Linked DNA regions of Homo sapiens: region 2 is linked to region 1. Evidence: fine-mapped QTL for protein levels in blood plasma. Region 1 holds a variant in brackets. A gene starts in the other region. All regions are shown on their forward strands.

Region 1 (15,278 bases):
GGAAAATAGTTTTAAATATTTATTCGACTGTGAAATATGCCTCACACTATCAACTCTGCTGGATCATTTGGCTTAAACACTCAAATAATTTTTCTTTAATACAGATCCAAGTACACGTTGTTCTGGAAATTTTTCAATTGCAGTATTTTCATCTCTAGCCAGAATTCAATCATTTTTCCAGTGCTACACTTTTCTGAACTTTAACTAGTTTGACAACAATAGAAGAACCTAGGAAGCCTTCTAAATCTCATTTATCTTTACAGGTATGAATTATGTGCTGGTTAATTTCTCCTAGAGACACCTCCTCTGGCACCTTAGTGACACTTCTCAGCAAACAGCATCTTAGAAAAAATGGGCATGAGTGGACAGAGAAGGCTATTGTGTCATTTTTGGAAACTGCACTGCTACCAAATTGCCTTGAAGTCTCTACTGAAAGTGCACCTGTCTCAGGAAGAAGTCAAGATGATATTGCGTCTTATTTCCAAACTCTTATTCTTCCAACTTGTATAGCACAAGCTCTAGGAAGGATTATACAAGAAACAGTAGGCAGTAGTTCTGGATGTTGACGCCGAGCCTAGCACAATCCAAACTACTTCATCAATAACCTTTACAATGGACAATTGGACACACTTTTCAGGTTTGTGGACAGAACCCTAACAAGAAGAAAGCACAGCCCTCACAAAGTAAGACCATGAGAGGAAATTGTCTTATGATTTGACAAAGTTATCAGAAACTGAACGAAGAGTAAGAAAAAGAAGCACAAAATAGGTTATTTTAAAGAGGAGAAAATAACACTCTACAAATGTAACTAGAGTTTACAGAAAAAGAGCCTGGAGATATTGGTAAACCATAGTCTGTGTGAGATGCCTTGCTTAACCTCTGATTTGAATATATCCCTGTAGAACAATCAGTGGGTACAATACAATCAGAGGAGTTTTTACATTATCCCCTATTCTGTCTTAGCAAATATTAATATATATAACTGCACTTAACTAGGAACTCAGAGATACATCTAATGAGCACTAAGGATCATAGCAACAGAAGTACCCAAACTTGCTGAATAAGCATAAACTGATAAAGACCTATAAACAAATTTAAATAATCTATATTTTGAATCCAATCATTTTTCTTGTCCTACCTACAACCACCACCACTGACAATAATACATAAAAAAAATCCCAGCAGAACTGGAGGGTCAGACAAAATGATTTGCTTTAAAACTCATCTTCAAAATATTTCTAGACTTCTAAAATTTTAGCTTGTATGGTGATTGGGTTTTGTCACCAACTTGAAACATGAAAGCAGACACTCCCTGGCTCTACATGTGTGATGCAGCTGTTCTCAGGGTTCATGTTTAAAGCAATCTTGCACCATAGCTCTTCTAGGGGGACATAGGATGGCCTTTTGGGCTGTGAAGGTGACACTGGCTCCACAGACTCAGCACCTTCAAACTTTGCTTTTGCCATTGTCAAAAGGTGAAAACTCCTGTAGATGAATTGCAGTATATGAATATTCTGAAAAGAAAGGAGAAGTTATAAGATTTTAAAATGTGGCTCAATTTTCAGCATCATATAATTATTTCAGAGTATAAAACTCTGACATAATCTAGTTAATGCTTCTTAGAATCCGTTTTTTTAAATACATATGGGATAATAAGATAGCCTTTACCTTAGCAAACTCACAAGTCAATTGCTAAATAAGCCAAAATCCAAGTAAAAAATTCATAAAATTTAGATTCCAAAGGCACCATAAAACATACGGAGTTTAACTGCCACAGAACAGCAACTAGAATTATTTGAAGCAAATTTTTTAAAAATATGCCACTATATATCTACTCTCAGAACTCTGAGTTCTAAGAAAAGGAGGTAAGAGATAGCAACTGCAACTAATAATTTTTGATAAACTGGTCTGAACCTGCTTCTTCCTGATGAGGCATAGCATACTAAGAGCTGCTAGACTTCACTGAAAATCTCCTTGAGAAAATGCAAGTCTGAGAGTGAGGTAGCACCTATCATGCTCCACGTCACTAGACTATTGCTTTCAGAAGCTGAAAATCAAGTGTTGACCTTAAGGAACACTTTTGGAAGCAATATTGCAAGTGCATTGCTAAAGCTTGAGAAACAAAAGAGGGGATTTTCAATGGGTTCATCAAGGTCATCCTTTCCATGTTCTAATGCTCCTGATTTCCCACCAGCAACATGGATTCCTGAAAAGGGGATTTCCTCACAAGCTACAGAAGTGTTGGGGTACTAGAGAGAGTAGATAATAAAGGTCAATATAATTGACCTCCCCAATTAACCAATCAATCCACTTAACCCTGAGCTTGGTTTCTTCTTTAATCTCAAGTACATGTCAGCCTTATAACACTCAAAAGTATTCCCTTGCTCATACACTTTTTTTGTTCACCACTCCATCCTGAGGACTTAGAATAATACCTAGTTCACAGCAGGCACTCAGTAAGTATGCAGTGAATGAATGATAAATAAATTAAGGAGTATAGAATCATTATTTCCAAAAACATTTGCTGAATGATAGCATTTGCCTGAATGTCTAATAAGAATTATAGCATCCCATGTTTATTTAGTGCTTACTGCATTCCAGGGACTGTACTGATCCCTTCATGTATAGAGCGCCAAATAAAATAAATAACACCTCAATTAAATTTGAATTTCAGATAAACAACAAATTATTTTTAGTATATATTCCATGAAATATTTGGGACACATTTATACAAAAACATTATTATTGTTTATCTGAAATCCAAATTTAAATAGAGTCTTATATTTTAATTTGCTACATCTGGCAACACTATTCATGTATCTTATCTCATTTAATCCTCACAACAGCCCTAGAGATAGGTATTGTTTTGACTTCCATTTTACAGAATAGGACACTGAGGTTCATAGAAATTGAGATCTTTGCCTTATTTTGCAGTATCTATCAAAAGTTTAAATGACCACACACTTTGAAAACTGATCCTACAGGTACTCAAATATGAATGTACCAGGATATTTATTGCAGCATTATTTGTAGCAGAAATTGATTAGAAGCCACGAAAATGTCCATCAATAGGAATTAGATAGATGTACAATGAAACACTTACTTAATCATGGTTCATTCACTCAATGGAATATAGTGCAGCCACTGAAAAGGATAAGGTAGGTCTATATGTGCTAATATGAAATATGCTGTAAGTTACATTATTAGGAAATGTAAAAAGAAGTAAGTGCATGTAGGATATATTATACATTTTTATAGGCATAGAAAATTTCTTGAAAGATACACAAGAAACTACTGTGGTTGACAATAGAGAAAGAAAATGAAGAGGGAAATTGGGATGGAAGAGAGACTTCGTTTCCATTTTACGTTCTTTTGTACTGTTTAAATTATTTGGCATTACACATATTAGTATTTTAATGGCCAACTGAAAAGAAGAATAGAAGCAGAAAGAAGTAATAGAAGAAAACTTGGCCAAGGTCACATATAAGTGGCAGGTCTGGGACCAGAACCCAAGTTTGTCTGGCTACAAAGCCCATGCTCTTAATACATCTATATTTATTGTTGCTTTTTATTTCCCAGAGTAATTATGTATTACCTATATAGAAAAAGATTGGACCCTAAGGAGCTGAAAGGACCCAATCATGGCAACAGTGCACACTCCCAGCATTTAAAACCAGTTGATCCAAAGACAGCTTGCAATCATGATCCCCTGACACAAACACTCAGTGGACAGCAGCAGTTTCTGGTTCTTTTCAATCCCAGTACCATCAGAGCTGCGCTAGAGGAAAACATACAGCTTGGCCCTAATCCCCTAATAACAGACTGGTGAACAGGATCTCACTACGTTGAGAATGAACATAACGCTCATATCTTTGGAATCTATTTATTTTAAAGAATGCAGATGTTTCCCTTTTTCCTCCATTCTTCTTAGCAAAATGCTTATGCTGAGGCAAAATCACACAGGGAGGTCTCTGGTCAGCTGCTGAAGATGCTCTCTCACCAATTTTGCCAGGGAGGAGGGTGAAAATAAGAGATGATGAAAGATGTAGTGCTATAGCATGGAGAATTTAGTTTAACAATTTGCTGAGAAAAAGTAATCAATCTTACAGATGCCCTGCCTAATTTATATAAATCCTATTGTGCATTATTCAGATGCAGAAATAGACACACAATTTAGTCTTCCTATTTTGAAAACAAAATGATCAACTCACTAAGTTTTACCTGAACAATAAGCCTGCTGAATGTTTTACAGGAAATGTATTCTCTTTCATCATTTTCCTAAACTGAAACCCTTGCCCAAATGAGCCTCCTAAGACTCTATCTTCTGTAGATTCTTAGTAGGATTCTGTGAATAGATGGCTATAGATTATGAAGACACAGGAATTCAGAAGAAAATGATTTCAAAGAAAGACAATTCCATCTGTTCTCCCTTATGAAAGCTAGAGGAACTATCTTAGATTGACCATGGAGAAAACAGAGCTATTGGTCTAGGTTGGATTCCTGGGTAGTAGATTTAGAGGGAGCTTTATGTATAAGAGGTTGATTGGCAAGTTCTCTTGGGATTAACACCTGTAAGAGAGGAAAGAAGCACTGCTGGACAGAGGGAGCAGTTGGGCTGTTGATGTAGCCACAATGAAAGCCACAGCCAAGACCACGGAGAGCTCTGGAGCTCTGGAGCTGGAACAGGCCTTTACAATAGGATCAAGGGGACCAGGACTTTATACCATGGCATGATTCAGTCATTGGATGCAGGATGACCCCAGAAAGGAGGAGTGTCCTTAAGGAAAACACTCTCGTCAGCCAAGGGCAATTCCCAGAGAGGACTGCCAGCTGAAGGTTATATGTGGGCAGCACTCCTGACAGCTGGGAAAATATGTTCTGCAGTCCTAAGGGGGGATGTGGGTGGCACAGCAAAACATCCACTACAAACTGAGAGCCCATTCCCAGCTTTGCTATCAATATCTTCATGTATTTATAACATTCCCTTGAGGGGCAGTGGGCAGGGGAGGTCTCACTTTGTTGCCAAGGCTGGTCTTGAACTCCTGGCTTCAAGTGATTTTCCCGCCTCAACCTCCCAAAGTGCTGAGATTACAGGTGTGAACCAATATTCCTTTTTTAATTCTAAGCTCCACCTTTCTATCATTTCAATTTCAATACTATAAAGTTAATGCAGGCAAGCTGCCATGAATCTTTGTGCTTCCCCAATCCAAGTTTAAAACTTCTGGGGAAAACAAATCTGTAAAATATTAGGTCATCTGATTCACCTCCTTTGCCAACAGTACAATAAAGTTGGGAGATACATTTCTAGTACCTATCTATTAAAAATATTCTACAGATAACCACCGACTATCTAACTATCCTAAGAACAATGTCTATAGGAAAAAATCACTGTTTCTGAAATCTTTCTTATATGAAGAACATATTTTGATTTAAAAAATGTACAATCACCTTAGCCCAAGTAGATCAACTATTTTCTTCATCTAAGTGGCCACATATTATTTTGAAAAATCAGAGAATTCACTCTTACTAAGCTTAATAGCAAATAATTATCCTCTTTTTGAAAAAAACAAATACCCCAAAAGAAGATAGTTTCCAATGGAAAAGAAAACCTGGATATCTTAGTTCCAGGATAAAAGGCCTATGTTATATTTTTTCATTGCCTCTAGTGATAGTCTCAATCAATTTGCCCATATAGAGCCAAGTGAAGAGATAACCTAATGTCTCTTAAACCAGAAAAAATATTGGCTGCCTTACATGTCAACTAATAATACAAGCCATAGCAACACAGACAAAGCGAAAGTGTTGCTCAATGGTGTGATGTGGTTTGTTCTGGCCAGAAAACCTAACATTCTGGAAATAGCATTTCTGATTTTACAGCACAAAGTACAATTAAAGGTATCACTGGAATATCAGGAGTTGATTTACTTATTAGGTTTGCAGTAATACTGTCCCAGAACTTTTTAAGAAAATTTCAAGATGTCACTTCAAAATAAGTTGTAATGTTTATCATCCCTAGTTCCTCAAAAATGGGATAGCACATAAGTCGAATTCTTTTTTTTTCTTTTTTTTTTTTTTGAAACGGAGTCTCACTCTGTCATCCAGGCTGGAGTGCAGTGGCACCATCTTGGCTCACTGCACCCTTGACCTCCTGGGTTCAAACTATTCTCATGCCTCAGCAGCCTGAGTAGCTGGGATTACAGACATGCATCACCACACCTGGCTAATTTTTGTATTTTTAGTAGAGACAGCGTTTCGCCATGTTGGCCAGGCTGGTCTTGAACTCCTGGCCTCAAGTGATCTGCCCGCCTCAGCCTCCCAAAGTGCTGGAATTACAGGCATGAGCCACCAAGCTTGGCCCTAGAATTCTTAATGAGTTCATCACTGGCATATGCGGTATCATCACCCTGCATTAATGAGTTTAAGACCACTCTTATGTGTACAAAATGACCCCTCTAATCTAGACACCATGCTGAGTGTCAGAGCTGCAAGTGGAATCAGATACAGACTGTGGTTATCAAAAAACCTGAAGACTAGTGGAAAAATATAAGTCTGGCTCTTAAATAACCACAACTAAACTATCTCTGTCTTCTGATACCCGGAGTATATGGATATCTTCCCGTCAACAATGAAGAATACCTGCACTTCAGAATGACCTCAGTGTTAGATTGTTTGCCATATAGCTGTCATCAAAAGTCCAGTGAGAAAACTGATAGACCAGAAAGATTGTCTAATAAAGGATATATTAACTTTCATTTCTCAAGATATTCCAAGCTTTGTCCCCATAAATGGTGAGCTCATCCGAAAACTATATGCCTGGACTGTATTATTCTGGTCCCTCTAGGCTTGTCTTCTCAGAATCATAATTTAACATCACGTCAACAGATTTCAGTCAGGATTTATTTATAATCATGGGTAAAATATCTCTACTCTCTGAAGCTTCGACCATTATGTCACTTACATTTTTCTCAGGACCAGGATAAATCTTCTTCCTTACAATTACCAGAGTACTTCCTGTCATTAAACCCTCAGCTTTGTACCTTCAGCACCTTCATTATGAGGAGAAACAAAGTTCGAGTCAATGTAAATCCATGAATGACAAATCTTGATCGGTCATTTAAACAAAAACCAGGAAATTTTATAGTAAGACTCTGTCCCTGTCCTTTGAGGATGACTTTTTAGGAACAATCTTGACACTTGCAGAAACCAAATTCTGTTGAGAATGGGCCAGAAATTGGAATTTAAATTTTACACCTTTAAAGAAGAGAATATTGGCCCCCTTGTTTATGAAGGAAATGATGTAGCATAGTAGAAGAGTACATGTTGTAGAACTGGAAAACATGCACTTGAGTCAAAGCTTCAGAACCAACCAGCCTTCAGGCAAGATATTGATTGAGACTGGAATTCTCTGCTATGACCTACCAAAACCGGCTCTTATCAACCCCTCAGAATGTCTTTATTCAGAAAACTGAGGTCTTTGAAATGCCACAAACCCACCTAACATTTAAACACCTGTCTTTCATGACATTTTTTACTTTCAGATGAAATAGATTCATTAAAGCATTTTGTAAACTGTAAAATAATATATACATTTAAAATACTGTGACTATTTTTTATTATTATGAAGCACCTCATTATAAGGATTGTACATTCTGATTTTGATTTCAAGTCTTCAAAAGAGCTATCTGCACTCACTTTCTCTACTTCTTGACTGTCCATGCTTTCTCCAATCAGGATTTTGTCTCCATCCTTCCAACTGCAATCTCTCTGGTCATCCTGTATGTTACTAAATCCAATGATCAGTTCTCAGTCTTCACTTTATTTATCACAGTTGGCCACCCCCTCTTTCTTCAAACCTTTTCTTTGTTTTAATTCCAGAACATCCAAGTAGTTTTCCTCTTATTTCATTAGTCACTGCTTCTCACACACTTAGCCAGCCCTTTCTCTTTTGCCCATCTTCAAACTTTAGAGTGCCTGAGAGCTAGAGTTCCTCTCTCCACTATGTAGGGCCCAGAATCTTCATCCAAGGTGGCCAAATGACTTTTTTTTTTTTGAAACAGGGTCTCTGTTGCCCAGACTGGAGTGCATGGCATGATCTCTGCTTGCTGCAGCCTTGAATTTCCAGGCATCAATCCTCCCTCCTCAGCCTCCTGAGTAGCTGCAACTGCAGGTGCACACCACCATGCCTGGCTAATTTTTATATTTTTAGTAGAAATGGGGTTTTGCCCATTTGCCCAGGTTGGTCTCAAATTTCTGCTCTCAAGTGATCTGCTTGCCTTGGCCTCCCAAAGTGCTGAGATTATAGGCATAGGCTACTGCAACAGGCCTTGGATGAGTTTTTTG[T/G]TTTTTTTTTTTTTTAGATGGAGTTTTTCTTGTTGCCCGGGCAGGATGGAGTGCAATGGCACAGTCTCGGCTCACTGCAACATCCACTTCCCAGGTTCAAGCAGTTGTCCTGCCTCAGCCTCCCAAGCAGCTGGGATTACAGGTGCCCACCACCATGCCTGGCTAATTTTTTTGTATTTTTAGTAGAGACAGGGTTTCACCATGTTGGCCAGGCTGGTCTCAAACTCCTGACCTCAGGTGATCTGCCCGCCTCAGCCTCCCAAAGTGTGATGACTTTTAAATTATATCTTCAGCCCACACCTCTCCCCTAAGCTTCAGTAATGCATTCCTCTACAGAATGACTAATATCTTGATAGAATTCTGGTTTCCTAGACCAGGCAGAAAACCACCACCACCACCACATGCTTCTTCCCCAGTTTTCTCCATCTTGGAACCTCAGCCAACAACTAGGTTTCCTGATGCCTCTCTTCATACCCACCCAGTACACCAACATATTGCCTCTGCCCTCAAAATACATCTCAGTCTGTGGTTATTAGGTGATATTTATTAAGGTACTACTGCTATTTTGTCAAATGTAGTAATGGTAGTATGGCTAAATATATGTAAATCCTTATATGTTCAAGATAAATACTAAAGTATTGATAGATAACAGAATATGACATACAGGATTTGCTTTTAAAATACCCCAGAAAATAAAATAATAAAAATTGATACAAAATAGCAAGAAGTATGCAAGTATACAAGAATAGCAAGTTGCTGCAGCTATGTAATACATAGAAAAGGATTCATTGTACTGTTCTATTTGTGTGTGCATGTGTGTCTGAAAATCCATGAGTGATGGTGATTATGATAGATAGATAGATAGATAGATAGATAGATAGATAGATAGATAGATAGATAATTCTACTTCTGTTTATGTCCTTCACTGCTAACACTCATGTCCATGGCATCATCATCATACCTGGACAAGAGTAGAAAACAAAATTTGTCACCGTCATTCTGCTCTTGTCTCTCTCTGCTGTCTACTGTCTACACAGAAGCCAGCGAAATCTTTTTATTGTTCATATAATTTTCCTGCTGAAAACCCTCCAGTAGCTTCTCATTACATTTAACATAAAATTGGAATTCTCTATCACTACCTCTAGGAATTGGCTCTTGCCAGCCCTTCAGCACTCCCCTTTATCACAATACTCTAGCCACAGTAGACATCTTACTGTCAGGTTCATTTCCACCTTGGAGCTTTTATACTTGTTGTTTCTTCTACCCAAGATCTTGGCATGGCTAGCTGCCTCTCAGTTCAAATATTACCTCTTCAAGGGGCCTTCTCTGGTCACCGTCTTTAAAATCATCTCCCCATCTCCCATCCCATCACTCTCTATCCTATTCCCCTATTTCATTTTCTTTGTTGTACTTACAACTACTTGAAATTATATTATTTATTTACATTTTGTTTATTATGTGTCTTCCACACTAGAATGTTGTTCACTAGGGCAGGGATTTATCTGGCCTCCTCATTTCTGTATCCTTAGTACATAGGAGAGTGCGTGGCACATATTAGGGGCTCAATACATATTGGTGAAGGAATATTTGAACAGATTAGCTATTTATGTGATCACTCATAATGTGTGCATAGCATATTTAGTTCTAGAGCTGACACGAGTAATAGTTTCACAAGGCTATGTCTCCTGGGAAGACCCTAAGAAAGTGTAACAAAGCTAATGACAAAGTCTGGAAAGAGGGTAAGGACAGGATGAATCATTGTAAGGCAAAGGATATCAGTTTAGACAATAAAAGAAATAAATAAAAACTTTTTTCCAAAGGAAAAAAGTGGAAAGCAAAATTGCATATATTGCATGGGCTCTTTTGCATATATGTATATTTGCCACAAAAAAATGCAACAACAAGGGATAATACATTTCCCTAAAAAGTAGACATTTTTACTTTTCTGAGTTTTTCACATTTTTAGTTGATAAATTTTAGATAAAAACTCACTTCTCAGAAGCCTCCTTTGTTCCCCAGACTGGCCTAAGTACCCCTTCTTTAGTGCTTCCGTTGAGGTCCATCAACACATCCATCCTCCTATACATTATATTGAAACTAAAAACTTGGTTGTCTCCCTGCCCTACAAACTGTGAGTTATGAAAACAGAAATGCTACGTTAATCATCTTTGGCACATGGGAGATACTCACTATCTGCAGAAATAAGATAGACCTAAAGATTCCTCTGGTTCAGAGCACCCATGCTATGTCTGCTCTTAACAATGCTGGGACAATAAATCAAATGACCCCAACAAAATTGGCTGTATTATTGAGGCTTATCACTTTTTCCAATTCAAGCCAATAGGATTAGAGTGTAAGCAGGAACTGCGACACGCTCCCCTGGCCCAACCTATGACATGAACTAGAGTGCCCCAAAAAATCCTCTATTTCTAGACCCGTCAGGTCTGGGTAAACCTGGCCTCTGGTGAAGGTCCTAAATCTGTTTCCCCATGCCCCGCTGACCACAGTAAGTCCCTGGAACAGGGGAAAGCCTTGGGCTCAGGGATGGTATATCAAATGGCAGTTGCATTTCTCATATTTTAGGAATGAGATGGATAAGAAAGACCTTCTAATGTAATCCCTTCATTATTCATTGGCACTACTCAAACCCCAAAGTCTCTAGGTTGTTTTTCTACTCCCTGGATATATCTATATGATAATTTTTTGCCTGGAGTAGACTCCATTTTTCTCTATTAGGAAGATGAAAACTTTCTGCCAGAAAGTTGCCCTTTTAATTACTTTCTGGGAAACACTCTAAGTTATGTGCTCCACCCAGCTCCAGGATGAAGTTTTTCTGCTTAATAGCAATGACAGGCTGGTCTCATACTCCTCCAAGCCCTCTCTGCTTTCTAGTGATCAAGGGGTTTCAAGACCTTATGGTCTTATTTATAGTCTGTAAAAATATGTCTAAATATATGTATAAATAATCTTCTCTCTTCTGAATTCCTTTCTTAATCACAAGAGCCACTACTGGGAACGATATTTTCAATTTGGTTAATCAGGAGATTTCGTGCCAGGGATCGTGACCATAATTAGGTACATTTGGGTAAAACTTTTATTAGTTTGACATTATCAGTACCAGATTTGAAATTTAACACAAGCAAATCTGCAGGCCAATTATAAGCATTTATACCACAGTCCTTTGCATATTTGTTTGCATAAACTCTAATCCCTACATTTTTAGGCATCTATTACTCTAAAATGCTCCCTATTTAATAGGGCCTCTGTTGCTTATTGTTTTCCTATCATTCTTTTTATCTCAATTCCAGTGTTCTTTCTTCTTCATCCTTAGAAAGAGAGTAAGAAATGAGATACAGAGCAAAGACAAAATTTAGAATACAGAGAAAGCAAGAAAAAAGAATCTAAAGACAGCCACCAAAACAGAATGAAAGGTGTCCCTGGTAACCTAGTGTGGAAAGCATGACAGCATCTCTTCACCTCTGCACCCACAAAAAATTGAGACCAAAGGCAAAAAAAAAAAAAAAAAGAAAAAAAAGAAAAAAAAAAAGCCTTTTAAAACTATAATGAAGGATCAGGTGAAAAAGAGAAAGACTAATAAAGAAAATAGGACATATGCTGAAAAATATTTCTCAAAATGAGAAGTGATACTCTAGTACATTAGTTATCTGATGGGGTGCAAATTAAGGAAGCCATGTACCTTTTCTCATTTTTTATTTGTCTTATTCTTACTGGAAAATTAGGTTCTATTATTTTTAAAAATATTAACATATTATCACTCAAGTTTCAAAGGAAGGATTAAATGAATAAAAGTAAATTCCCATAAAAGTTATGCATCTAGCAGTTTAGCTATGGTTCTGTGACCCCAAAACTTATTTCTAATAAAGCAAGCATTTGCAGAGCTGAGTTCTCACAGTGGTTAAGTCTGGATTTGTCCACCCTGGACAGACGGAGAGAGTAAACAGATTCTATGATAGAGGTAGGTTATTTCCAACAGATACTTAATAACTGAGCCTAGAAAGAAAAAAACCTCAGCTCTTCCCTTTTGGCAGAGCTTTAAATTTTTTTTCACATTTTGAAACTATTTACAGTTCATATGGTTTCCAGACCTACTCTCCAAAACCAAGGGCATCATCCCCTGCCTGGGTCTCTCAGTGCTCCACATGTGATTTCTCAGGCAGCCAGCCAGATGAGCATTTGATTTGAAAATGAAGCCTTAAATTTAGCAGTGTGAAAGGGGAAAGCATGTAAGAACATAAATGCCTGGAAAGGGGCAAGGTAACAGATGAGGACAGCTGGGTGAATACTCTTCGTCGTCCAGGCAATTCAGAAAGTGCCGCTGCAAGGGAAACGTCCACTGCAAACCCCAGCAAGTCTATTTCTGCTTCTCCACTGGGTGTCTAGGGCTGCCTGTCACATTTTTGCTTGTCCAACTTGCTGCAACCTGGGGGCAGCTGCGAATGAAACAGTAAGCATTGCTTCAAATCATATCTTGAGCTCTGCTAATTAAGAAATGAAGTCCAGGCAGACCTAAATCCTTCCCTTTCCTTAAGTGTCAGACACTGTCCCATACATGTTAATTTCCAGCAGTGCCCAAGAGACTCCCAATAACACAGAACACTAGGGTAAAGATGGGCTTGGTATCCGAGGACCTCACACTCTCAAGTGCAATGATAGCCAGCAGCGATGTGCACAAACACACAATATATGAATACTTCTCCTTGCCCCATATTAGTTACAGGGAAGAAAAGAGGAGTCTAAAATATATTCTGCTTTTGCCCCAAGAGGCTTTATTTAATTCACTTTAGTGCATTTTGCCCACTATCATGTAATTATTGCGTATCAACTGCATGGGAATATGGAGATTGTCTCAGCCTCAAGTAAGTCACAGCAGTAATAGGAACAGACAGACAAGTATAGCAATAGGCAATTAGCCTCTCCCCATATCTATCTTGACCCCTCTGCATTAGCTTCTTCCCATGCAGCAGGTATGAGATTTTCCAAAGACAAACCCTTCCACACAATCTCTCTGTTATGAGGAAAAAGACCCAAACTCTTAATGTAGCCTTGAAGGCCCTGCAGGGTCTGGCCTCTGATGGCTTCTCCAGCCCTGTCTGCCCCTGCTCTTCTCTCCGCCTTATTCTCTGGACTTCTGCCAATCAGTCCCTCATAATCACCATCCTCCTTCCCCTCCACAGGACCTTTGCACATGATTTTCCCTCTGGAATTCTTCTCATCCCATTGCTCCAACTCCTATTACCACCTTTGCCTAGTTAACTCCTAGTCATCATTATGTTTTCAGCTCAAATGTACTACTCCCTTAAAGAATCCATTCCTAAACTGCTTCACCTCACCTCTACCAACCCCCACAAAAAAATACCTGTCTTTAGAACCACACTCTTTTCCTTAGCAGCATTTGCCTTGGTTTGTAATTATACACTACTTAGCATGGCTATTTTATTATCTACTTCCCTGACCAGACACTAAGCTCTGTGATTGCAGAGAACATGTCTGTTTGGGTTGACCTGCATTTGCAGAATATAGCTCAATGCCTGGCACACAGGATTCACTCAATAAAGATTGACAAGTAAATGAAAGGTAAGGAGACCATTATGATACTATGTGTCATGATATAATAGAGTGCTATTATCAAGACAAAGAAAGATGGTGGGAATATGATCAGGACATTACCCTAGTAGCCTCATGCTTTGAATTGTCTCCTGACACCTTTTGCTACAATTTCTTCCATCTGGAATACAATTTATCTCCACTGTTGGAAGACCCGATGATTAAAGTTCTTCTTCCTTACCTAATCCATTTTGTAACTTTCAGATCCTACCCTCCTTGTTCCACTGTCATCTCTACTACTATTACTATCAAATCCATCCTCATACTTTCAATATTCCATTTGCTGTTAAATCTTTTTATCAGGTGGAGTCACTGACTCCCCTTCTTTGGCTCCTCACCATCACACCAAAGCTGAAGAGGATCACAGAGTCACTGTACTTAAAGCCTGAGAGGAACCTTGAAATATCTGGCCTAGTGGTACTCAAACTTCAATGTACATGAGAATCCCATGAAGTGCTCATTAAAAATAGAGTCCTCAGTCCCAGACCCAAAAAGTTTGATTCAAGAGGTCCGGGAAAGAGCCCAGGAATCTGCACCTGGGTGATTCAGATGCAGGTGGTCCTCAGACCTCATGTGCAGAAGTACTGACCAGTGCTGTGATGCTTGTGGAGGCTCCTCAAGATCTACCATAAAGGGTGAGAGGGCAGCCGAGAGCACCTGCTCTGAGCAACTGCACTATACATAAGATTTCATTTGAAAAGGGTTCTGCTTATTGGAAAAAGAAATGTTTGAAAATGACTGGTATCCAATATCTTTGTTTCATAGATGAGAAAACTCAAGTCCTTGGTCCTCAGTCATGTAGCCAATTCATGACAGAGCAGGACTGAACCTCAGCCTCCTGACACCAGGCTAGTGGACTTTTCCCAATGCCTTCCTGCCTTGTGGGGTAGAAAGACAACAGAGGTTCTCACTGCTGTGTTGCCCAAGAGTCTTACAATGAGTAGCCTGCATATGAAGATGGTACTTGTGACGGACCACATTGCACCAGAGCACATAACTGGAGGGACAGGAGATGGTGGATTTGGGCTCATTTTTCATCCAGCATATTCTCAGCCTCCCTCTTCAATAAGCCTGTAAAGACCTAGTAATCCTCTATGGCCTGAACTGTTCCTGGGTTCTCCAATGCTCTCCCCACCCTCTCACCCCACCATTCCATTAGCTGTTCAATGGCTGACCTTTGCTGGGGGGCCAATTCTATCAAGGGTTATTCTGAGACAATGAAATCCCTGCCACTAGCCCTCCAAAACTAGTATTAGCCATCCCTACCCCATATGTGTGCACCCAAAGCACCCAGTGCACCTGGAGCACCTCAT
Region 2 (15,278 bases), not on the chromosome of region 1:
CAGGCATTCCTTGGCCTGGTGGTCAGATTTCTGGCACTTGTAGGAAGCTCCTGGGAGAGGAGGTTCTGGAGGAACACCTGGCGGCTGCGGTTCAGGTGTTTGGAAGTTCTTGTGTGCTGGAGATGTGGCTGGGGTTTGTCTCACAGTGGAGGCAAGGAATTGCAACTTTTTTCTATTATTGTACACCTTGAAGGCGAGGTTAATTAAATCTTGTTGTGGGGTTTGAGGGCCGGAATTTAATTTTTGGAGTTTTATTTAATGTCGGGAGCAGATTGGGTAATAAAATGTATATTAAGAATAAGACGGCCTTTTGACCTTTTAGGGTCTAGGGCTATAAAGTGTCTCAGGGTTGCTGCCGAACGAGCCATGAACTGGGCTGGGTTTTTATATTTGATGACAAAGAGCCTAAACGCTATCTGATTTGGGATAAAGAAAAAGGAGCATTAACCTTGACTATGCCTTTAGCTCCAGCCACCTTTTTAAGGATAAATTGCTGGGCAGGTGGGGGAGGGCTAGTCACAGAAGGAAACTGTAAGCCGGACTAGGCGTGAGGAGGGGAGGCGATAAAATGATTATAGGGTGGAGGAGCGGAGGCTGAGGAAGAATTGGGACCTAGCTCGGCCTGTCGAGGAGGGGAGAGGTCAGATGGGTCTGTAGAAAAGGAAGATTAGAAAGACTTAGCGACGCTTGGGGTTGGTACTGAGGGGACAGGCGGGAGGGAAAGAAGGAAGATTTGGGTCAAGTTGCACTGGACACAGAGACTAGGAAGGGACTGATGTGTAAAAGAATGCCTGGACGTCAGGCACCTCAGACCATTTGCCCATTTGACGACAGTTTGTATTGGGGTCAAGCGGCATTGCAGAAGAAAATAAGACATTTAGGTTTTAGGTCAGGTATGAGTTGAAGAGGTTTTAAATTTTTGAGAACACAGGCTAAGGGAGAAGGAGGAGGAATGGAAGGTGGAAGCTTACCTATAGTGAAGGAGGCAAGCCCAGAGAAAAGAGTAGAGACACGGAGGAGGGGTTGCAGGGGGGTGGTTCTTGCCCTCCAGAAAAGCAGAGAAGGGGTAGGGGCATGGAAATAAGGGATTGGGGCACAGAGATAAGAGGTTGGGGTGTGGAAATAAGCGATTGGGGGTTCTTGCCCCCTAGGAAACTGGGACTTGCCGCTAAGGGTGAAGGAGAAGGGGTTGAGGGGTACTTGCCCCTGCCCCAGGAAAGCGGGACTTGCCGCTAAGGGTGAAGGACCAAGGCAGGCGTCCCTGCGTGGTCTGACACCCTTGAAACGTGAGTGTAAAATCAGAGAGGCGTCCCTGCAATGATTAAACACCAAGGGAAGGCTGCCTTCCCAGTCGGTGACCGGTGCCGGAGTTTTGGGTTCACGGATAAAACATGTCTCTTTTGTCTCTACCAGAAAATGAAAGGAATTGAAATTAAGATAAGGGAGAGACTGAAGTGTGGCGCCAAGATTGAAAGGAGAAAGAGGTTGAGGGATAGTGAGGGAGGTTGGAGAAGAGAGTAAAAAGAGGCCGCTTACCGGATTTGAAATTGGTGAGATGTTTCTTGGGCTGGTTGGTCTGAGGACCTGAGATGGTAGGTGGATCTTTCTCACGGAGCAAAGAGCAGGAGGACAGGGGATTGATCTCCTAAGGGAGGTCCCCCGATCCGAGTCATGGCACCAAATTTCATGCGCGTCCGTGTGAAGAGACCACCAAACAGGCTTTGTGTGAGCAACATGGCTGTTTATTTCACCTGGGTGCAGGCGGGCTGAGTCCGAAAAGAGAGTCAGCGAAGGGAGATAAGGGTGGGGCCGTTTTATAGGATTTGGGTAGGTAAAGGAAAATTACAGTTAAAGGGAGTTTGTTCTCTGGCGGGTAGGAGTGGGGGTGGCAAGGTGCTCAGTGGGTGCTTTTTGAGCCAGGATGAGTCAAGAGAAGGAATTTCACAAGGTAATGTCATCACTTAAGGCAAGGACTGGCCATTTACACTTCTTTTGTGGTGGAATGTCATCAGTTAAGGTGGGGCAGGGCATATTCACTTCTTTTGTGATTCTTCAGTTACTTCAGGCCATCTGGGCTTATACGTGCAAGTCACAGGGGATACGATGGCTTGGCTTGGGCTCAGAGGCCTGACAGTAGCCCCACCCAGGAGTTGACTCAGTGCAACAGGGCAGCTTCAACTCTGGTTTCATCTCCAACCTAACCAATCAGCACTCCTGACTCACTGGCCCCTCACCCACCAAGTTATCCTTAAAAACTCTGATCCTTGAATGCCGGAGGAGACTGATTTCAGTAATAATAAAACTCCAGTCTCCTCCACAGCCAGCTCTAAGTGAATAACTCTGTCTCTATTGCAATTCCCCTGTCTTCATACATTGGCTCTGTCTAGGCAGCAGGCAAGGTGAATCTATTGAGTGGTTACAGTAACAATACCATAACAAAGGCACAAGAAAAGGCTACATGGCTGTTTTAAAATGTAGATTCTATTCTTCTTGTGAACAGATCAGGAGTTGACTGCTGTTGAAAAGAGATTTTAGTGTGCTCAGATCCCAATACAAGGGGCCATGACACACCATGGGGCTGGAGGCACACGGGAAGCACCAGGGTTATTCAAGAGACAGATGGAGTGGAGGAAAATGTGAGCAGGAGTCTTTATTGTGGTTTCTGAAGGAAGACAGGAGAGATGGGGTAAGCAGGTTTTAAATGGGCTAGTGTGAATAATTTTGGTGGGCTCTGGGATCTTGGGGCTGTCCCTAGTTGGTCATGGGGTGATTAAGGCATGGGAATAATGGCCCACAGTGCACAAGCCCAATAAAGGTCGTTGGGGCTTTGGGCTCTGGATTGGTTAATTTGCATATGAAAGGCATGCTCCTGGTGATATCTCTAGGAATTAGCTAGTCCTGGGAAGGGCAGTCCTTTCAAGGTCAGCAAGGCCCCAAGGGGTCAAAACGTTAAAAATACAGAATTAAAAGACATGATTAATACAGTGGCTCAAAACATAGGAAGCCCAGAAGTGAACAAGTCCAAGTATGTTTTCAATTCTGAGCATACCCCCAATCCACTTGTTGTCTTTCACAGCTTTCTATTTGCTTCTTCAACAGCACTAACCACTAGTGTTTTCTGTTTGTTTACATGTTTCTTGCCTGTGTATCTCACTACATTGTCAGCTCCAGGAAGGCAAGAAATTTGCTTGTCTGGTTTTCTGCACTAGTCCTAATTGCTGACACAGTGCCTGAGACACAATGGATACTCAATAAACATTTGTTGAACAAATGAGTGAAAACAATAGTGTTTGATGGTTATCTGTGTATGCATAATATGATTTGCATGTACACACACATACATACTACTATTCATATATGTATATGTATGTGGATATTTGTGGGTGCTTTTGAGTTGATGTTTTTCATGTACATTCCAGTCAAGACTGCATGGCTGGCTGACTACTAGATAGACCCAACAGAAATCTATTTGCCCAGGGGTCTCAGGAATCTCCTGGAAAGAACTTGCCCTCTAGGACCAGCAGAGAAGCCTGATACAGTACCAATCATTTCAGAGGTTAAAAGAGAGAAGCATTTCTGCATGTATAATGCTATATTTCACCTGAGGAGGCCTCGGTCCTATCCCTCATGGATTTATAACTTGGCTTTTATAAGAAGTCAGTTTAGAAACTGGAAAACCTATTTTTTATTGAAAGCGCTACAATATTTTAGGATGCTGTGTCAGTCAGAGTCCAGCCAAAAAGTTAAAACCATACCAAGTGACCACACAGAAAGAATTCAACATGTAGGGTAATTTACAAAGTGCTAGAAATGCAGTTAAAGCAACCAAGCAGAAGATGAATCAACTCTGAGATTAGAAAATGCAGAAAGTTGTTACTCCTTCTAGGTCAGGAAGGACAGTGATGAGAAGGTGGGGTCTAGGAGCTGGGGCCATGCAGTAAAAGCTGGAACAATGTTGGCCTGTGTGGCACAGGGGGAACCACAGATAAAGGACCTTTCCAAAAGGAGATGAGCCTTGGAGAGGGTGCAGCCACTACCCATGATAGCTCCTGAATTGGAGAGAGGGAGACATATCCCTTCTCCTTTTCTCTCTCTCTCCACTCTTTCACCTGTGCCTTCCCCTGGCTTAACTTAATCAGATGCAGTTGGCAAGGAAGCCTGGAAGCAAGGAAGCCTGGAAACCACATTTTAAAAAGTCAACTTTCTATAATACAGAGCCAGGAATGAAAGTGAAGAGAAAGGATTTAAAAGCAAGCAAACAAATTTGAGGGCAGCACTGGTTTAGTATTCCAAAAGAGACCATAATAAAAAACTAAAGGGCGTCATTGTGGCAGGCTGGATCTCCACAAGCAACCAAGTCTCCATAAGCCCTTTGCTGTAATGATGAATGTGTAAGTTAAACATTGAAGAACTAGAGAAACTGGTGCCTGAGTAGGAGACCTGGAATGCAGAAACAAACCCGTTAAGACCCTACCTGGGCTTTCTCATCCTCAAACCTGATTGAGTGATAAAAGCATTCATGCACATACAAACCATACCAGGACCCATGTAAAATTAAGAAACTTTCCAGCCCACAGACCACTAGTTAAAGATTAGATTTAGGCTAAGTAGAAATACTCCTGCATATAGGCATAGAGCTTGAAATTCATTTATATATACTAAAGGAAAAACTCATAACTTTTAGTTGGTCTGGTAAATTACTCCGACCTTCTCCCTGTGGCTGGTTACAAAAATAAACTCGCTTCTTTCCCAGTTCACCTGTATCTCATCATTGGACCACGAGAGCAAGCAGCTGGACCCTGTTCCTCCGGCAACGGCATCAATCTTACCACCAACCTTGGCTCTTTGAGGGGCTTGGTATATTAATATCACTGGCATCAGTGGGAATATGTGGGAGAAATGGAAGCAGTACTGGTAGAGAAAGAAGGAGAAGTGGCAGGATTGAGGTGCATGGCAGGCATTCATGGTGTCTTTCATGTAGTTTATAAAGTAGTTTATAAAGTAGCAGAAAGATAAAGAAATGACAGTTACAACATGGTAACATAAAAATTAGTAAAATGTGACATAAATTAGATATTAATTTTGGTTTGGCATAGCAGAATGCTCTGTCTGCATAATTTTATTAGATCTTCATTACAATACCACACCCTCAGATGAGGACAAATAAAGCCCCAACCTCTGGCCTTACATCTTAAGGTGTGTTTTCTCAAAATTTTCTGGGTTCCACTTTGGTGGTGGGAATGGCTGGAGCCAGCAGTACCACGTGGCCGGGGAGCCCTGAGCTGGTCCTGTGCCCATATGGACTCCGCTTTCTATTTCACCCCTTCATGGTTCTTTCTTACCCTCTTCCTTGCATGTCGGGCCCACTCGATGCCCCAAAGAACTCCAGGACTTCTGCTCACAAATGAAGTTGTCCTGAGGTCCTGTGGCTGAACCCTGGATCCAGAAAGACAGCCTTGGAAACAAATTACTACTCCTGTAGCCAGTACCTTACAATTACGTATTTTTGAATGATTTTATCGGATTTGATTGCCAAAGAATCTTGCAAAAACAATTTTTTCCCCAAGCTACACACCTTATGGTTGGTTGTGTTATTTATGTTCCCATTTTAGATGAGAGGACCAATATCCTAGATTAAAAATGTCAAATCCAAGATTACACAAACAGTGAAAATTGAATCCCAGGTTTTTCAAAAGACACTCTGATTTTAGATCTTAAGCCTATTATTCTATCCAAAGGCTCAGAGAAGACATGCTCTGAACATACTCAAAGTAACTGACACTGGAAAAGGTAACAGAGGTGTGAAAATCTTACCATAGTAGATGTGTGAGTGGGCTGGGGGCAGGTGAATTCCAGAGAAATGTGGCACTAAATGTCATGAAGCTGACTCTGTATTATACCAGAGTGGCCTCCAGATTGCTTTCACAACTGGGTAGTTCATCAGCTAATGTGATTCTCCAAACTTTAAATGATTAGAAAACTGGGGAAAAATGTAGAAAACCAGAGGAAAACACTCCTTCTAATCCAAATATAAATTCTTCACTTCTTTTCAATGTTCTTCCAGGAGAAGGATTCGTTGGGCTCTTTGCCTTCTGCTTTTATTTCTGTGCAAGGGTTTATGCAAGAGGTACTTGAGAATGCTGTACTGTAGAGCTTTGTTTCTCATGGGAACACACGGGGAAGTGGAAAACCCTCCAAATTGTTTGGTGAGAAAACATAACATTTATCCCTTTCTTTGGTGGGGTGAGTCAAGTGGTAGGGACTAGAATTCAGGTCCTCAATGGGCATATAAATATGTGTGTGCAAAAGCAGCCATCACACTTTGTATGGCAAGTGGAACCACTGGCTTGGTGGATTTTGCTAGATTTTTCTGATTTTTAAACTCCTGAAAAATATCCCAGATAACTGTCATGAAGCTGGTAACTATCTTCCTGCTGGTGACCATCAGCCTTTGTAGTTACTCTGGTAAGTAACTGGAATACATCTGGAATATGTGACATTTCTTTACTTTTCTGTTAATAAGAGCACAACTAGTAAGCCTTGCCTCACTGACAGTGGAATATGGTGGTAGGAATTGTATTTTTTTTTATTTTACTTTTAACTGACACATAATAATTGCACATATTTGCAGGGTTGGAAGAAGTTTTGGAATCACAGAAAATGGTGATGTTGGAAAGTATTTCAGATCCCCACCATCTAAGCTCTAGCCCAATATAAGTATTCTAATACATCCTACATAGGAAGTTAGCCAACTTCCACGGAGGGTCAACAAAGCACATTTCACTGCTGGATATTGGTCACCATTCGTTTTTCTTATTTTCCTCAATTTTGAGTTAAAATTTGACTTTATAATTTCTTTTGTGCTTTTGAACTATATGGAGTCATTCTTGCTATCATCTCCAGTTATCCAATTTGCTAGCTTGGTTCTCCTGAGATAGCTACATTCATCTGTTTATCCACTCAATGGATATTTATTGAATGGCTACAATTTGTTGGGCACTGGATAGGCATTGGAAGATTTAGACATGAAGCAGTCATAAATATTGTTCTTAAGGTGCTACTCTGGTAGGATAGATAGGGCTTCTGCCTAAGTTACTATAATTCTAGACTACTGTAAACGTACTGTGAGATATCCAGATAGAACTCTTTTAGTGTATTGGTGGGTGATTAGTTTAATTTTCAGGTAAGGGTATAGAAGCTGGCTTCTTGGAGGAGAATGGGAACTGATTTATTTTTTTGGAAGGAATCATTGTAACTATCAGGAAGACAGTGTGGGCACATGGGAAAAAGAGATTTCATGATAGCCACTGCTCATTGAGAGAACAGAAGGCTTTGAAGATCTTCTCCCAGGAAGCTGTAAACACATACAGAGAAGATATTTACCAAAATGTCTGAAATAAGAAGTATGGAGATTAATAATGAAAAATTGATTGCCGCCCACACCTACAATGGCAACTTTGGCTTTTGATGTTTATTGAATTTCTGAAGGAATTTGTAACTTCACCAGTTTTGGATATTTCACTGTTCTCTAATGTCCAGGGACAGGTATCTATGGGCAAAGTGGCAGCAGAAAGGAGGTGGGGAAAATAAATACCGCCCCCTCTGGGTGAGAATTTTGGAGGGACAATAGGTGATTGAAAATTTAAAAAAATATATACAGGCTCCATTTTAATAATTTGAATGGGGAAATAATAGGTTTCCAAAGGAAAATAAACTATGGCAGGTCTTAGCCAGTAGGAGGATGTGTGTTCTTACGTGTGTGCTCACATGCATGTGTGCATTTATATATCTGCACATGTTTTTGTAAAAAATACATCGTACATATTTTCCTCAATCTCTACTTTTTCCCACCATTCATCTTCTACGGGAAAGTTATCTTCCTAAAGCCAAAGATATAAAACGTAATTTTCCTATGTAAAAGCCTTGATAGCGCCCCACTGCCCTCAGGAAAAAAAAATCCAAACTCCTTTGTGTGACATCCAACACTTTAAAAAATCTGACCTCACTCAACTTTTGCAGCCTCACTCCCTTTATCTTCCATCCTTTGGTCATAGCCTATTGGAAATCTGCACTCCAGCCTTCTGGGCAGAAGGCTCACCATCCTGTGTATGCACTTTTATCCTAATGGTTCCGTGCCTTTATTGGTCATGTTTCTAAAATGCTTCTCCTCTTCTTTACCTTATGATCCTGACATTTGCCTCAAGACATAGCTCTAACAGCACTTCTGGAAAATTCCTGCAGCACTCTTTCATGTTAGAATTAGTCATCCCTTTCTTGTGTTTCCATGGAGCTTTGTCCATAATGTTAGCATAGCACATGCTACACTGTGGCATACACAGATCTTCTATCACCAACTGGACTGTGTGAAGTCTCTGAATGGGCATCCTTGTCTTATTTGTCTATGTATCTGCACAGACTAGATAGAGTTGGTGCTCAATTATGTTTGTAGCGTTGAGTTGAATTGGTTGGGAGCAGTTTCTTGGGCTGTGGTTGGGTCCATTCCTGTCTTTATGTGGAGATTCACTATAGCATCTCTCCTTTAGCCTCAAAGCTGTGAGCTGTGGAGACAGTCACATACAAAATACCATCGCCTTCAGACAATCACAATGATCTGTTGAATGCTTACGCTGCCAGGGTCAGTTGTAGGCATGGGTGCATTAGCGAAAAAACACACATTCCTTGTTCTCATGGAGCCTCCATTCTAATGAGAAAATAAAGACAATAAAAACAGCAAATGAAGAGTTGCTTTTTTTAGGTAATGGTAAGAAAAAATAAATGACGGAGAGTGACTATGGCCATTGCAGGCTTCTCCGAGGAGGTAATATTTGAAGAGAGACCAAATAATGTGAGAAAGAAAGGTAAGTAGCTAGCTAAGGAAAAAAAGTTCTAGGGAGATGGAACAGCAGGTGCAAAGGGCCAGAGGTAGAAGTTTTCAATGGAAGTAAGATGAGTGGATCTGGAATGGAGCTATTGATGGACACAGGGAAAGAAGATGAGGTCATAGTCTGGGCCCAGATGTGCCTGTCTCACCTGGTTTCTCTTTTTCCTGCAGCTACTGCCTTCCTCATCAACAAAGTGCCCCTTCCTGTTGACAAGTTGGCACCTTTACCTCTGGACAACATTCTTCCCTTTATGGATCCATTAAAGCTTCTTCTGAAAACTCTGGGCATTTCTGTTGAGCACCTTGTGGAGGGGCTAAGGAAGTGTGTAAATGAGCTGGGACCAGAGGCTTCTGAAGCTGTGAAGAAACTGCTGGTAACCACAGCTTGGGAGGCTAATCTGCCAAAGGGGAGGCATACTCACCCTGAATGTCTAGCTCCTCTTCTTGTCCCTTGTAAATGTGCATTTCCACTTTACTGATTATATTCATAGGAAGTTTGCACATCCTGGAATCTCAGGAAAAATACAATTTCTACATTTCTGGGAAGGGTTTTTGAATGATAGTGACATGTGTTATAGTTGTGACAATACCATTTACCACCTTCGTGATTTTGGATGAGACGTAATCACTCTGAGTTTTTGTTTCCCCATCAGTAAAATAGTGGCCAAACAGGACACTGGAAGTGAATATGTTTTGAAACATGCGAATTACATGTAAGCTGCTCTAAATTTTGTTGTCCTTCTACATTTCAGGAGGCGCTATCACACTTGGTGTGACATCAAGATAAAGAGCGGAGGTGGATGGGGATGGAAGATGATGCTCCTATCCTCCCTGCCTGAAACCTGTTCTACCAATTATAGATCAAATGCCCTAAAATGTAGTGACCCGTGAAAAGGACAAATAAAGCAATGAATACATTTTCAGTCGTCCTATTTTTATTTCTGGGGACTCTATTCAGAAGGACGTATCCAGATTAGTTTTCCCTTGGTTCATAAACTCGAGAGAGCCTGTTTTTATAAAGAAAACCTGGAATCTTAAGTAAGACATAATCATTCCTTCTCCTTTCCTTATCTCTAATTTAAACATCTCTATTTTTCCCAAATGTTTTATCTCACGGTGTTTTCAGACCCTTCACTTTCCTATCCCCCATCCTAAATAAATTTTTACATTTAAAAAATGAAAAAATAATTTTCAAAATATTGTCTGATAAGACTAGCATCTTACTAACTTCATTGGTTTGGCTTCTGTTTCACTAGAATGCTAGTTCTTAAGTTTGTAGTTAAGCTATGGCCACTCAATAGCTTTCACCAATCCTTCCACCAAGTTAGGCCTTTACTACATCATCCTTAGGCAAATGGGTGATGAACTATCTTTTCTTTCCTTTACTCTGTCATCTACAGTGATGACAGAATTATCTTTCCAAGGAATTATTCTGGTAATATCATGACGGCCTGTAGAGCAGATTTCAAGCTTCTGAGCATGGCATGCAAGGCTGTTCATGATCTGGCTTTTGGTTACACGTCTAGTCTTCTTATCTACATTCCTTTCTTCACATGCGCTCTACTCCAGCCACACTGAACAGATAACTAAATCCTTTTCCCTCTAACACTCTTACACCTTAATGAAAAATCAAGTTTCTTCCTACCTAGAATGTCTGCCACCATCGACCTTCAGACCTGGCCTGTGTCAGTCTTTGGACTGTTTGCTGTCAGGTCCATTTCCTCCACTTCCCCTGTTCTGCTCTGCTCTGCTCTGCTGTGTGTTGAGGCAGGACAGGAAACATGATACTGATTGCTGCAGCTTGCATTTCTCAGGTTCCCAAATCAGCTGACATTTGGGCTAGGTTCTGCCCCTGGGAGGCGCAGGCAGTAGATAGGAAGTAGGAAAAGAGGAAAACTATTGTATGACCCTTTCTGGCTCTGTATTAGGGAGAAGTCTCTGGAAATGACTGTACCACGTCTGAGCTCCAGGTCCTGCTAGATAGGCCTGCCTTGGTCCCAGCTTTTGCTGGGTGAGTCCAGCCTCTGGGCTCTGGTTACACCACCTCCTTTCTTTTTCTCTCCAGCTGAAGTTAGTGGTTTCCTCCTGTTGTCAGTTTCTGGGTGCCTTACCATCACCTACTTGACTTTTAGCTCTTCTAATGTCTATTCAATCAATTCTTTGCATTACATTCCTTCTGTTGTAAGTACTTTGAGTAGTTTCTGTTTCTTAATTGGTTTCTGACTAAGATGATGTTAAATGTTATCTCTAGGGATATTATCTTAATTTCCTTCCATTGCTTGACTTCCATTTTTTGGCAACTAAAATAGCTTTCACTCTGTGAAATTTCCTACTTTATTTCCTTATTTTACCTATGCCTATAATGATAGATTAGGTTGCCCAGCTGCAGTAATAAATAATCCCAAATCTCAGTGGCTTACGTGCACAGTGTGTCACTTGTTCCTCACAGTATGTGGCCATCTTTGGTTGGCTGTAGCTATGATCAATGTTTTATGAATTCTATACAGGAGCTGATGGAATAGTCTCTCTTGTGCATTTTGCTTATGTTTACAGGGAAAGAGAACTTGGTGAACAATGAGCTAACTCTTAAAGCTTCTTCTTAAAAGTGAAGTATATGACTTCCAATCATGTTTAATTGGCCAGAGCAAGTCATTTGACCATGTTTGACTTCTTTAGGAAGGGGATGTATAATTATCCTATAGGAAAGAGCAGTGCCAAATATGATTAATGTAATGTAATTGACCACATTACTTGATGACTTCAAAGTAATTGTCACCTTAGATGACTCTCATACTTGCAATTTTCTTTTCTATTGAATTACATGCCATCTTTCCGCCTACCTTAGTTTTCTGCTATTTGACCACTATTTTTCAGTTTCTTTAAATGGCCCTTATTATTTTTGACTTCCCTTGGACATTGATACCTCCAAAGATACTAAACTTGATTCCCCTTCTATTTTTACTCTGTGTATAACCTTTATTGGAGAATCTTATGTACTACCATGGACGCCAATATAATCTTTATGTTAGGAACTCTAAAATCTATGGCTACAATCTATACCTTTTTTTTTTTTTTAAAGAAGAGATTTAGTTACCTATAAGACACCTCCAAGGGATGCTCTTTTTTAGGTTCAACTCAAACATTTTTACCTGAACTCATTGTCTCTCTTTCAAAACCCACTCCTATGTTTTAATTTGCTATTCAGTTTACAGCACAGACATTTTAGTGGTTGCCTGAGACAGAAACTTGGGAATAATCCTAAGTACTCTCTGTCATCAGCCTCCTTTCTGATTGGTAAGCAAGCCTTATCAACCCTTTTCACAACTATTGCACACATTTTTCATGATCACCACTGGTACTGTTCCTAAAACTTACTTTCTTTCTTTCTTCTTTCTTTTTTCTTTCTTTCTCTCTCTCTCTCTCTTCTTTCTTTCTTTCTTTTCTTTTTTTGAAGTGCTATAGTGCCATCACAGCTCACTGCAGCCTGGACCTCCTGGGTTCAGGTGATCCTCCCACCTCAGCCTCCTGAGTAGCTAGGACTATAGGCACATACCATCATGCCTGGCTAATGTTTTTTGTATTTTTTTAGATACCATGTTGCCCAGGCTAGTCTTGAACTCCTGGGCACAAGCGATCCTCCTGCCTCAGCTTCCCAGAGTGCTGGGATTAGAGGCATGAGCCACTGTTCCCAGCTGCAGATCTTGTCATTTCCCTTCAAACTACTGTGTTAATCTCTCAAGTGACTTTTGTATTCCCAAAGGTCCCCTTCTAATCCATCATCCATACACAGAAGGAGACTTCCTAAAATACAGGAATTATTCCCCAACTTCAAATTCATCCATAGTTTTTTAATGCTGATTGAAAAAAAAAGAGTCAGACACTATGTTAAATCAATAGACACATTAATAATATAAGTTTAAACGTATTTGTTTTCATACTTATTTCAAAGTCTCTTTTCTAGACTGTCAAGTTAAATGGTTAGTGACTCTAATGTACATGTCTGTATCCTCAGCACATCGCACAGAGCCTGAAGATAGTCGGTGTTGGTTCTGTTGAATAAATGGGATTGTTTCTGTTAAGTTGTATCTGATTGGGTTGGCCCCTTTGTTTTGTTCCACTAGTCATATTATTAAGCCTTTCATTGCTCTCTCTCTCCCAGTGTTTTGCATATTTGAGAAGGATGCCTCTCTATGTCTTCACTAAGGTATTAAATGGAAAAGATTGGGGATAAAGTTCTCTGCCATTGTACTCTGAGTAATAGCAGTAATCTGACAGTTTACTGGGTTGGAAGGTTTTTTTTCCAGGGGTGTATCAAACAGAGGGATTAAGAAGGAATCTGGGGACAAATTATGTTTGGGAAGGCAGGCAGAAACTGATGATAAACATTATCATAAAAGTGACAACACCAAATGCTGGTGAGGATGTAGACAAGCTGGATCACTCACACATTGCTGGTGTGAAAGTAAAACAGTACAGCTACTCTGGTAAAATAGTTTGACATTTTGTTAAAAAACTAAACATGCAACTACCATAAAACCCAGCAATTGTACTCTTGGGCATTTATCCCAGAGAAACAAAAACTTATATTTATGCAAAAACCTGTACACAAATGGTCATAACAATTTTATTTTAGTAGCCAAAAACTGGAAACAACACAGTTGTTCTTCAGTGGATGAATGGATAAATTTTGGACATCTTTGTAAAGAAATACTATTCAACAAAAAAGGAGAACAAACTATTTATATACACAGTAACCTGGATGCATCCTTAGAGAATTATGCTGAGTGAAAAAATGTCAAACCCCAAAGGTTAAATTTTGTATACTTTTATTTATGTAACATTCTCAAAATGACAAAATTATAGAAATAAAGAACAAATTTGTAATTTCCAGGGGTTAAGGAGACGATGGGGGCAGGAAGGAAGTGAGTGTGTTATATAAGAGCTGTATGAGAGATCCTTATGAGGACAGAAATATTCTGTGTTTTACCTGTATCAATGTCAGCATACTGGTTTTGATGTAGCAGCATAGTTTTGCAAGATACTACCATTGGAGGAAACTTGGTAGAAAATATGCTGGATTGCTCTGTATGATTTCTTAAAACTTCATGTGAATCTATAGTTATCTTAAAAAGTTTAAAAATTATTTTAAAGATCATCAGAATATAGAAATATATACATATAATTATCATATAATCATATGGAATATAATTAACATGTTATATATAATTATATACAACTATAATTATGTATAACTGTAGTTACATATATGCATATATGTAACTTTCATTCTCTTCATCCATAAATTCCACAAATTAGAGGAAACCACTGTTCACATTGATGTGCTTTTTTCAAGACATTTTCTAAATATTTACAAACATACATGAATGATACATTGCACATATGAATGACATATGCCTTATTTAAATTGTTATCTATGTGAATATTAATTTAATTTATATAATGTATATTATATTGTTTCTAATATCTAATTATATTTTTTGTTATTATAAAAAGTGCTATAGTGAGCATGCATATTTTGCATACATTTTTGTCTTTATGTCTTCAGAAAAACCTTGAAAGTGGAAATGCAAGGTCCAGAATTACATGGTGTCTAAAATTTTGATAACTAGTCACACATTTCAATGGGGAAGAACAGTTGGTATCTCAGGTGACTGAGGTCGGAGAAGTGCCATTTCCAAAGATGGGATTAGGGACCCAAGACAATGCCTAGGGTATGATTGTTCTCCCTAAGCTAGCTGTAAATCCCTTTTTATTATGTGCTGGAGGGTCAAGCCATGCAAGGTATGAATTATATGATTTCTTAGTTTCATGTCTAAGATAGGCAGTACAACCAGACAGGTAAGTACAATTTATTTGCTACATTATTTTTTATTTTAGAAAGCAACCAGATGAAGAGCTCGCAGGCTATTGAGGCAGATTAAAGACAGCAGAGGGCGCTCATTATTAGCAAAATCAAGGAAAACATTTGTGTATATATGCAAGGTAGATAATGAGAAATATCAGCACCTTCTATTGCATTAAATTTTTCACTGGGGATTCACAACTAAATGGCAACTACCTGATGCTCCCCCTTTCTAGTAACTACCTCTGACTTCATTTCAAGCATTGTTAAATGGTGCATTCTTTGTTCTGTCCTTAACTCTCTCATTATCAAATGAGAACTTGTTTTCTGATACTGACAATGACCATAATAACAGTGATAGCTATTGGTCATTCATTGTTTCCTCCATATATTTTCGATTCAGCAAATAATTATTGAATATTAGTTGCAGGATCTTTGCTGGACAGGAAGCATACAGTAATAAATTGTCATGACCCATATCTCCATAGATTTCACAGTGTAAAGGGAGAGATAGAAACCACACAAATAAACATG

Alleles and levels. Positions count from the first base shown, and alleles are read on the strand shown. Strength reflects both the effect of a copy and how common the allele is.
With allele G in place of T in region 1, the plasma level of the protein whose gene starts at base 6,318 in region 2 is higher (weak association).

What was found. A credible set is the group of variants that fine-mapping cannot tell apart. PIP is the chance, under the fine-mapping model, that this variant and not a neighbour inherited with it causes the effect. The UK Biobank Pharma Proteomics Project read protein levels with antibody pairs (Olink). The fine-mapping took linkage between variants from a reference panel, not from the people measured, so its PIPs are less certain.
Region 2: SCGB3A2 starts here. The variant in region 1 is the best candidate, but not a certain one, in a credible set for the plasma level of the SCGB3A2 protein (UK Biobank, PIP 0.62).

Annotation. Positions count from the first base shown.
Region 1 is chr15:50,011,931-50,027,208 of GRCh38, forward strand. The region is part of intron 6 of ATP8B4 (ATPase phospholipid transporting 8B4 (putative)); the gene reads right to left. Among named protein-coding and RNA genes, the nearest start is that of ATP8B4, 100 kb to the right of the region's middle. The variant T/G (reference allele first, on the strand shown) is at 8,341.
Region 2 is chr5:147,872,394-147,887,671 of GRCh38, forward strand. It overlaps SCGB3A2 (secretoglobin family 3A member 2), which reads left to right and starts at 6,318. Exons shown (of 3, transcript NM_054023.5): 1 at 6,318-6,465; 2 at 9,053-9,255; 3 at 9,634-9,798. The coding sequence starts at 6,411. The coding sequence ends at 9,657. It also overlaps a transcript of C5orf46 not described here. RefSeq lists enhancers at 1,151-1,816, 1,817-2,484, 2,485-3,150.